Homo sapiens: one gene and its partner. The protein of the gene in region 1 purifies or fractionates together with the protein of each later gene. This does not show direct contact. Each region holds a gene or a part of one and is shown in the gene's direction. Other genes may lie near its edges.

The links.
Region 2: the proteins of AKR1C4 (region 1) and TMEM59 purify together in Homo sapiens (co-immunoprecipitation; one large-scale study listed by IntAct). This does not show direct contact.

Annotation. Positions count from the first base shown.
Region 1 is NC_000010.11:5,199,503-5,203,541, forward strand, and holds part of AKR1C4 (aldo-keto reductase family 1 member C4), read left to right. Parts: intron 1-678; coding exon 679-846; intron 847-4,039. UniProt on the Homo sapiens protein: Cytosolic aldo-keto reductase that catalyzes the NADH and NADPH-dependent reduction of ketosteroids to hydroxysteroids. Liver specific enzyme that acts as an NAD(P)(H)-dependent 3-, 17- and 20-ketosteroid reductase on the steroid nucleus and side chain.
Region 2 is NC_000001.11:54,026,181-54,029,204, reverse strand, and holds the end of TMEM59 (transmembrane protein 59 isoform 2 precursor), read left to right. Parts: 3' UTR 1-2,524; downstream 2,525-3,024.

The DNA of each region.
Region 1 (4,039 bases):
ATCCTAACAAGGCAGAGACAGAACCGGGTGGACTTTGAGAGGATCACATCGGCAGAGGAATACACAGGTGGCTAGACATCTAGAGAAATGCACCGAAAGGCACCAGTACGCCAGCGGGCCACCTACTGGCAGAAGCAGAATGACGCTGAGTTTGGCTGGGGCAGTCAGAAGACAGTCCAGGCTGCTGAGCAGCCGGACTCTAGGGGAAAACGTTCCTACTCCATCCCCTTCTGACTTCCCCCCAAGCTACCTCCACTCAATGAAACCCTGCACTCATTCACCAAGCCCAGGTGTGATCCGATCCTTCCGGTAAACCAAAGCAAGAACTCAGGATACAGAAAGCCCTCTGTCCTTGCCATAAGGTAGAGGGTCTAATTGAGCTGGTTAACACAAGCCTGTAGATGGCAAAACTTAAAGAACAAAACTAAAAGAGCACCCTGTAACACATGCCCACTGGGGCTTCAGGAGCTGTAAACATCCACACCTAGACACTGTCAACGGGTCATAGTCCCACAACCTGCCCCCATCTGTATGCTCCCCTAGAGGTCTGAGCAGCGGGGGCCTGAAGAAGCGAGCCACACCCCCACTGCACACCCTGTGAGGACAAGGGAACTTTTCCTGTTTCACTACCTCTCAAGCACATTGATCACCAAATACTACCTTTCGTTGCTCCTTCAGGTTCCGAGGAACAGAGCTGTAGAGGTCACCAAATTAGCAATAGAAGCTGGCTTCCGCCATATTGATTCTGCTTATTTATACAATAATGAGGAGCAGGTTGGACTGGCCATCCGAAGCAAGATTGCAGATGGCAGTGTGAAGAGAGAAGACATATTCTACACTTCAAAGGTACTGTGCCTATGATGAGCATGTATGCACATGTGTTTAATGGGATTGTGTGGAGATGACAATTCTGTAACTGGTTCAGTAGTTGTGGGTGAATTGTGCTTATTAGTTCCAATTTATTCACACATATTCAGGTATTAAAGCTAAAATAAAAGGCAGAGAATGATGATGCCTTTCTCATCATTGTTGTGTTCAAATTTACTACTTGAAAGTTACTTTAGGTTTTGAGCCTCAGCTCAGATCAGTATAATTATTTTATGAATTCATATTTTAATTTCAACAGGTTTTGGGGTACAAGTGGATTTTGGTTACATGAATCAATTCTACACTGGTGATTCTGAGATTTAAGTGAAGCTGTCAGGCGATCACTGGACATCGTACTCACTATGTAGGCTTTTATCCCTCACCTCACTCCCAACCTAACCCACACTGAGTCTTGAAAGTTCATTATATAATCTGTATATCTATACATCCTCGTAGCTTAGTTCCCACTTATAAGTGAGAATGTACAGTGTTTGGTTTTCCATTCCTGAATTACTTTACTTAGAATAATGGCCTCAAGCTCCAAGTTCCTGCAAAATATATTATTTCATTCCTTTTTATATATACACTATTCCATGATGTATATATATATATACCACATTTTCATTATTCATGCATTGGTTGATGGGCACTTGGATTGGTTTCATATTTCTACAATTGTGAATCATACTGCTGTAAACATGTGTGGGTATGTGTTTTTTATATATAATGACTTCTTTTCTTTTTGGTAGATACCAGTATTAGGATTGCTGAATCAAATGGTAGATCTACTTTAAGTTCTTTAAGGAATCTCCATACTGTTTTCCATAAAGATTACACTCATTTACATTCCTACCAGCCGTGTAAAAGTGTTCTCTTTTTACTACATTCATGCCAACTTCTACTGTCTTTTCAGCTTTTTAATTATAACCATTCTTGCAGAAGGTGATATCTCATTGTGATTTTAATTTGTACTTCCCTGATTATTAGTTATGTTGAGCATTTTTTCATATGTTCGTTGGCTGTTTGTATACTTCTTTTGAGAAATGTCTATTCATGTTATTTGCCCACTTTTCAACAGGGTTATTTGTTTTTATCTTGGTGACTTGAGTTCCTTGTAGATTCTGGATAATCAGTCCTTTGCTGGATGCATAGTTTGCAAAAACTTTCTTCCATTCTGTAGGTTGTCTGTTTACTCGCATGATTATTTCTTTTGCTGTGCAGAATCTTTTTAGTTTAATTAGGTCCCATTTATTTTTGCTTTTTGTGCATTTGCATTTTGGGGTCTTAGAGACAAATTCTTGGCTGAGGCCAATGTACAGGCCAATGTTAAGAAGAGTTTTCCAATGTTATCTTCTAAAATTTTTATGGTTTCAGGTCTTAGACTTAAGTCTTTGATCCATCTTGTGTTGGTTTTTGTATAAGGTGAGAGATGGCTTCCAGTTTTATTCTTATACATGTGGCTTAACAGTTGTCCCAGCACCATTTATTGAATAGGGTTATTTTCCCTAATTTATATTATTGTTTGCTTTGTTGAACAAAGATTAGTATTTGCCCTAATTTCTGTGTTCTCTATTCTGTTTCATTGATCTAAGTGCCTATTTTTTATACCAGTACCATGCTGTTTGTATAACTATAGTCATGTAGTATAATTTGAAGTCTGGTAATGAAATACCTCCAGATTTCTTCTTTTTGCTTAGTATTGCCTTGGCTATTGAGGCCCTTTTGTGGTTCCATATGAATTTGGAATATGGCCATTTTTATACTATTGATTCTTTCTATCCATAAGCATGGGATGTGTTTCCATTTGTTTATGTATCATTTCTTTTTAGTAGTGTTTTGTATTTTTTTGTAGAGATCTTTCATCTCTTTGGTTAAGCATATTCTTAGGGATTTTATTTGCAGCTGTTGTAAATGGAATTCTTAATTTGACTCTCAACATGGTTGTTGTTGGTGAATAGCAGTGCTACTAATTTCTGTAAACGGATTTTGTAACCTGAGACTTTACTGAATTTGTTTGTCGGAGGAGCTTTTTGGATGAGGCTTTGGGGTTTTGTAGGTATATGATCATATTACTGGCAAACAGCAATACTTTGGCTTATCCTTTTCCAATTTGGATTCCCTTTATTTTTTTTACCTTGCCTGATTACTCTGGCTAGGACTTCCAGTACTATGTTTAATAGAAGTGGTAAAAATTGGGCATCCTTGTCTTATTCCAGTTTTCAGGGGAATGCTTTCAATTTTTCTCCATTCAGTATGATGTTGGCTATGGATTTGTTATATATGCATTTTATGCCTAGTTTGTTGAGGGTTTTTATCATAAATGGATGTTGGATTTTATTAATTGCTTTTTTGCATCTATTGAAATGATCCTATGGTTTTGGTTTTTAATTCTCTTTGTGTGGTATATCATATTTATTGGCTTGTATATATTATAGCATCCCTGCACCTATGGGATGAAACCCACTTGATCATGATATATTTTTGATGTGCTGATGGATTTGGTTAGCTAGTATTTTCTTGAGGATTTTTACATCTGTATTCATCAGGGAGATTGGTCTATAGTTTTCTTTTGTGTGTGTGTGTGTGTGTGTGTGTGTGTGTGTGTGTGTGTGTTATGTCCTTTCCTGGTATTGGTATTTGGTGATACTGGCTTCATAGAATAATTTAGGCAGGATTCCCTCTTTCTCTGTATTTTTGAATAGTTTCAGTAGGATTGGTACCAGTTCTTCTTTGAACATCTCCTGTGGAGATAGCAACTTTGGCTTTCAAGCTATTCCCCTCCCCATCCACCTTCAAGGCCAGGTGCCAGCCTTCTGCATTTGTCTGCAGCACACTTCCTGCTTTCCCCCGGGGTTCTGGCCAAGGGGGCTCATTCCCACTTGAGATAATATTAATATCATGAAATTCAGTTAGGAGCTTCTTTCGATCTGTGACATGTGGCTGAACTCCCCAAGTTCAAGTTGGCTGACTTTGCTGATGTCCCCTGTGAGATAAAATAAGAAATGGCTTCCCTCAGTCCATGCTGGAGACTGGTAATACCTTTGTGACACTTGTCACTGCCGCTTCTACTTTATTTCTCACCTCTCCCTAAATCAGCTTTGGGCCTGGGTAGGGTTAAGGCCTTACCCATGGCCTGAATTCTCAGATTCCCTGGTGGGGAAGAGTATTCTGG
Region 2 (3,024 bases), on another chromosome or scaffold:
TCAGAAATCCCTGTGGTGCATCATGAGGCAATCTGAGCTGCTGATCAGCAGAAAACCCTGCACTGTCTGAGCTTATCTTCCAGCCAAAGGCAAACAATTTACCCTTTGTTATTAGTCTGTCTGGATTTGTCTTAGATAAATGAGCCATTTTTGTTACAAGTTTTTTAAAGATATACAGTAGTTCCATTATAATTTTTGTGGACTCAAATATCAAGTCCACATGTAGGGAATCATTGACAGAGATTTCCAGTTACTGTCACCACCACACCAAGGCAGTAATTTTGCTCAGTTCTGCCTTTATAGATCCACAATTTAACCATTCAACAACCACCTGAGATCCTGAGTGGCAGGCCCTATGCTAAATGCTAGGACCACAGTAAGACCCAGTGCCTGACCCCAATTGCTGAGACTCTGAAGGAGACTATTATTAATGTGATAAGTGCTATGACCAAGCACAGAGCACATAGGAGGAGCTGTATGCATTATGGGAGCACACAGGAGGACTTCTGGGAGAAAGTGATAGCCAAGCTTAAACCTGGAGAAAAAGGGAACGCCAAACACAATATAGAGAGCAGTGTACCAGACAGTGGGGACACTGTGCTCAAAGACCTAGAGGCCAGAGGGTGAGGCACTGCAGATTGTTGAGTAGGCCGAGATAGAGCATACAAAAGCATAACAAAAGATGGGGCTAGGCAGACCAGGTAATAAACCTGCACTTTAAACCTGCACTTGATCCTGAGCACAGTAGAGAGCCACTGAAAGATTTTAAGCAAGAGAGTGCCATACAGTGTTGGAATGATTCACTCGGACAGCAATGTGGAAGATAGACCAGAAAGGGCAAGTCCAGAGGCCAACAATAATCTTAGCCTCAGAGTTCTTTTTTTAATACCCAAGAATACTATTTCATTTTACTTATATTTTTAAACTTTTCTCTATAACGCTCTCTCTGCTCCCCCACATTGTTGTCTGGATGGTAAACCTAGGACTGGTCTCTGAGTCCTGGTCACAGCCTGGCAACAGAATGTTTGAGCAAACTGGGAAGGCTGCCCCATGGATCCCTGGTTTCTTATCACCATCCTCTTAATTCTACGTTTGCCAACCAGTCTCTAGGAAGCCAGCGTGCTCTTGCGCCCCTCCCACCAGGTTTCCAGTTGCTAAGCGTGTCATGTTTGCATTTGGGTATCATCTGCATGAGTGACCATTTTAATCTCTCTTTCCTTGACTACTTGTTCTACACTAGAGTCTAGGGTGGGGGTGAGTACAGTGGTAAAGACAGGGATAGCGGGAAATTTAGTCTTCTGTTTAGGAAGCTGGATGGTAGTGTGGATTTTCTAACTCCTTGTGGTAATTAAATTCTGGAGCACAGTTTTTAGACCTTTTCTGAAATCTGTTACTGTTGAAGTCAGCTTCATATATTTCACTTTTTTTTTTTTTGAGACAGAGTCTCACACTGTTACTCAGGCTGGAGTGCACTGGTACAATCTTGACTCACTGCAACCTCCACAGCTCCCAGGTTCAAGCGATTCTCGTGCCTCAGCCTCCCAAGTAGCTGGTACTACAGGCGCGTGCCACCATGCTTGGCTAATTTTTGTATTTCTAGTAAAGATGGGGTTTTGCCATGTTGCCCAGGCTGGTCTCGAACTCCTGGCCTCAGGTAATCTGCCCGCCTCAGCCTCCCAAAGTGTTTGGATTGCAGGCATGAGCCACTGCACCCACCCTATTTCACTATTAAGTACTCTCTTCCTGTGATATTAATGACTTATTTGTTTCAAACTTTTTTGTGCCATTGAGCTTTTTAGTGATCCAGTGAAGCCTGTGGACCCCCTCTCATAGTAATGTTTTCAAAGCATAAAACTAAATATAAAGGATCGCAAAGGAAACTGATCATGTTAAAATAAAGTTGATATTTTCAAAGTTTTATGATCCAGTAACATACATATTCTGTTAACACAAAATAAGACTGCATGGTGGTTCTAAAATTACTATAATTCAAATTCATATCTTGAAATATCTAACAACTGTAATATATCTAAATGTCTCATTTCTATTGGTGACAAAGTCACAGGTACTCTGATCCTACTGTGGACTGTTTCCTATATTCGTAATTGAAGGAAATGTTATATTTCAGTTAGAAGTTGGTGAAAAGAAAGATTTAAAATTTTTCCCATCCAAGTTCACCAGACCCCTGGTTTAGAGGTTGTCTTAATTTTACTTTTGTCATTTTAAGAGTAAATTATTTTGTTTTCTTGTTCAATTCTCAATTATTTGGGCTTATTTTACTGCCTCTTGCATGCTTTTTTATGCTTGAATGGTTTTTGCAGTGTTAGAACAGTAATAATTGAAGACTTGGGTGGAAAAAAATCAGCACCTGATTGAAAATGAAAGGTTTCAACAAAAGCTCTTGATAATGTTACCTCCAGGTGTACCATCATGCCACCATTATTGGTGCTACAAATCTGTTAATTTATTTATGCTTAAGTATGTAAACTTTAATAAAACTTGGATCATCTGCATTAAAAAATAATGCTATCTTGTAAAAGTGTCTACTTAGGTAATTCACAATGGGGTGGGTTTGTTGATTCCCCATGACATTTGCAAAGCCCTTTGTAGCACTCTCACCTATCACCTTAAATGGATTCTTATAACATCCATCTAGTGGATTAAAGACTTAAATATAAAACCCAAAACTACAAAAACCCTGGAAGACAACCTTCAGAATGGGAGAAAATATTTGCAAACTATGCATCTGACAAAGGTCTAATATCTAGCATCTATAAGGAACTTAAACAAATTTACAAGAAAAAAACAACCCCATTAAAAAGTGGGCAATGGGCATGAACAGACACTTCTCAAAAGAATATATACATGCTTCCAACAAGCATATGAATAAAAGCTCAACATCACTGATCAAAATATTTGCAAACTATGCATCTGACAAAGGTCTAATATCTAGCATCTATAAGGAACTAAATTTACAAGAAAAAACAACCCCATTAAAAAGTAGGCAATGGGCCGGGCGCGGTG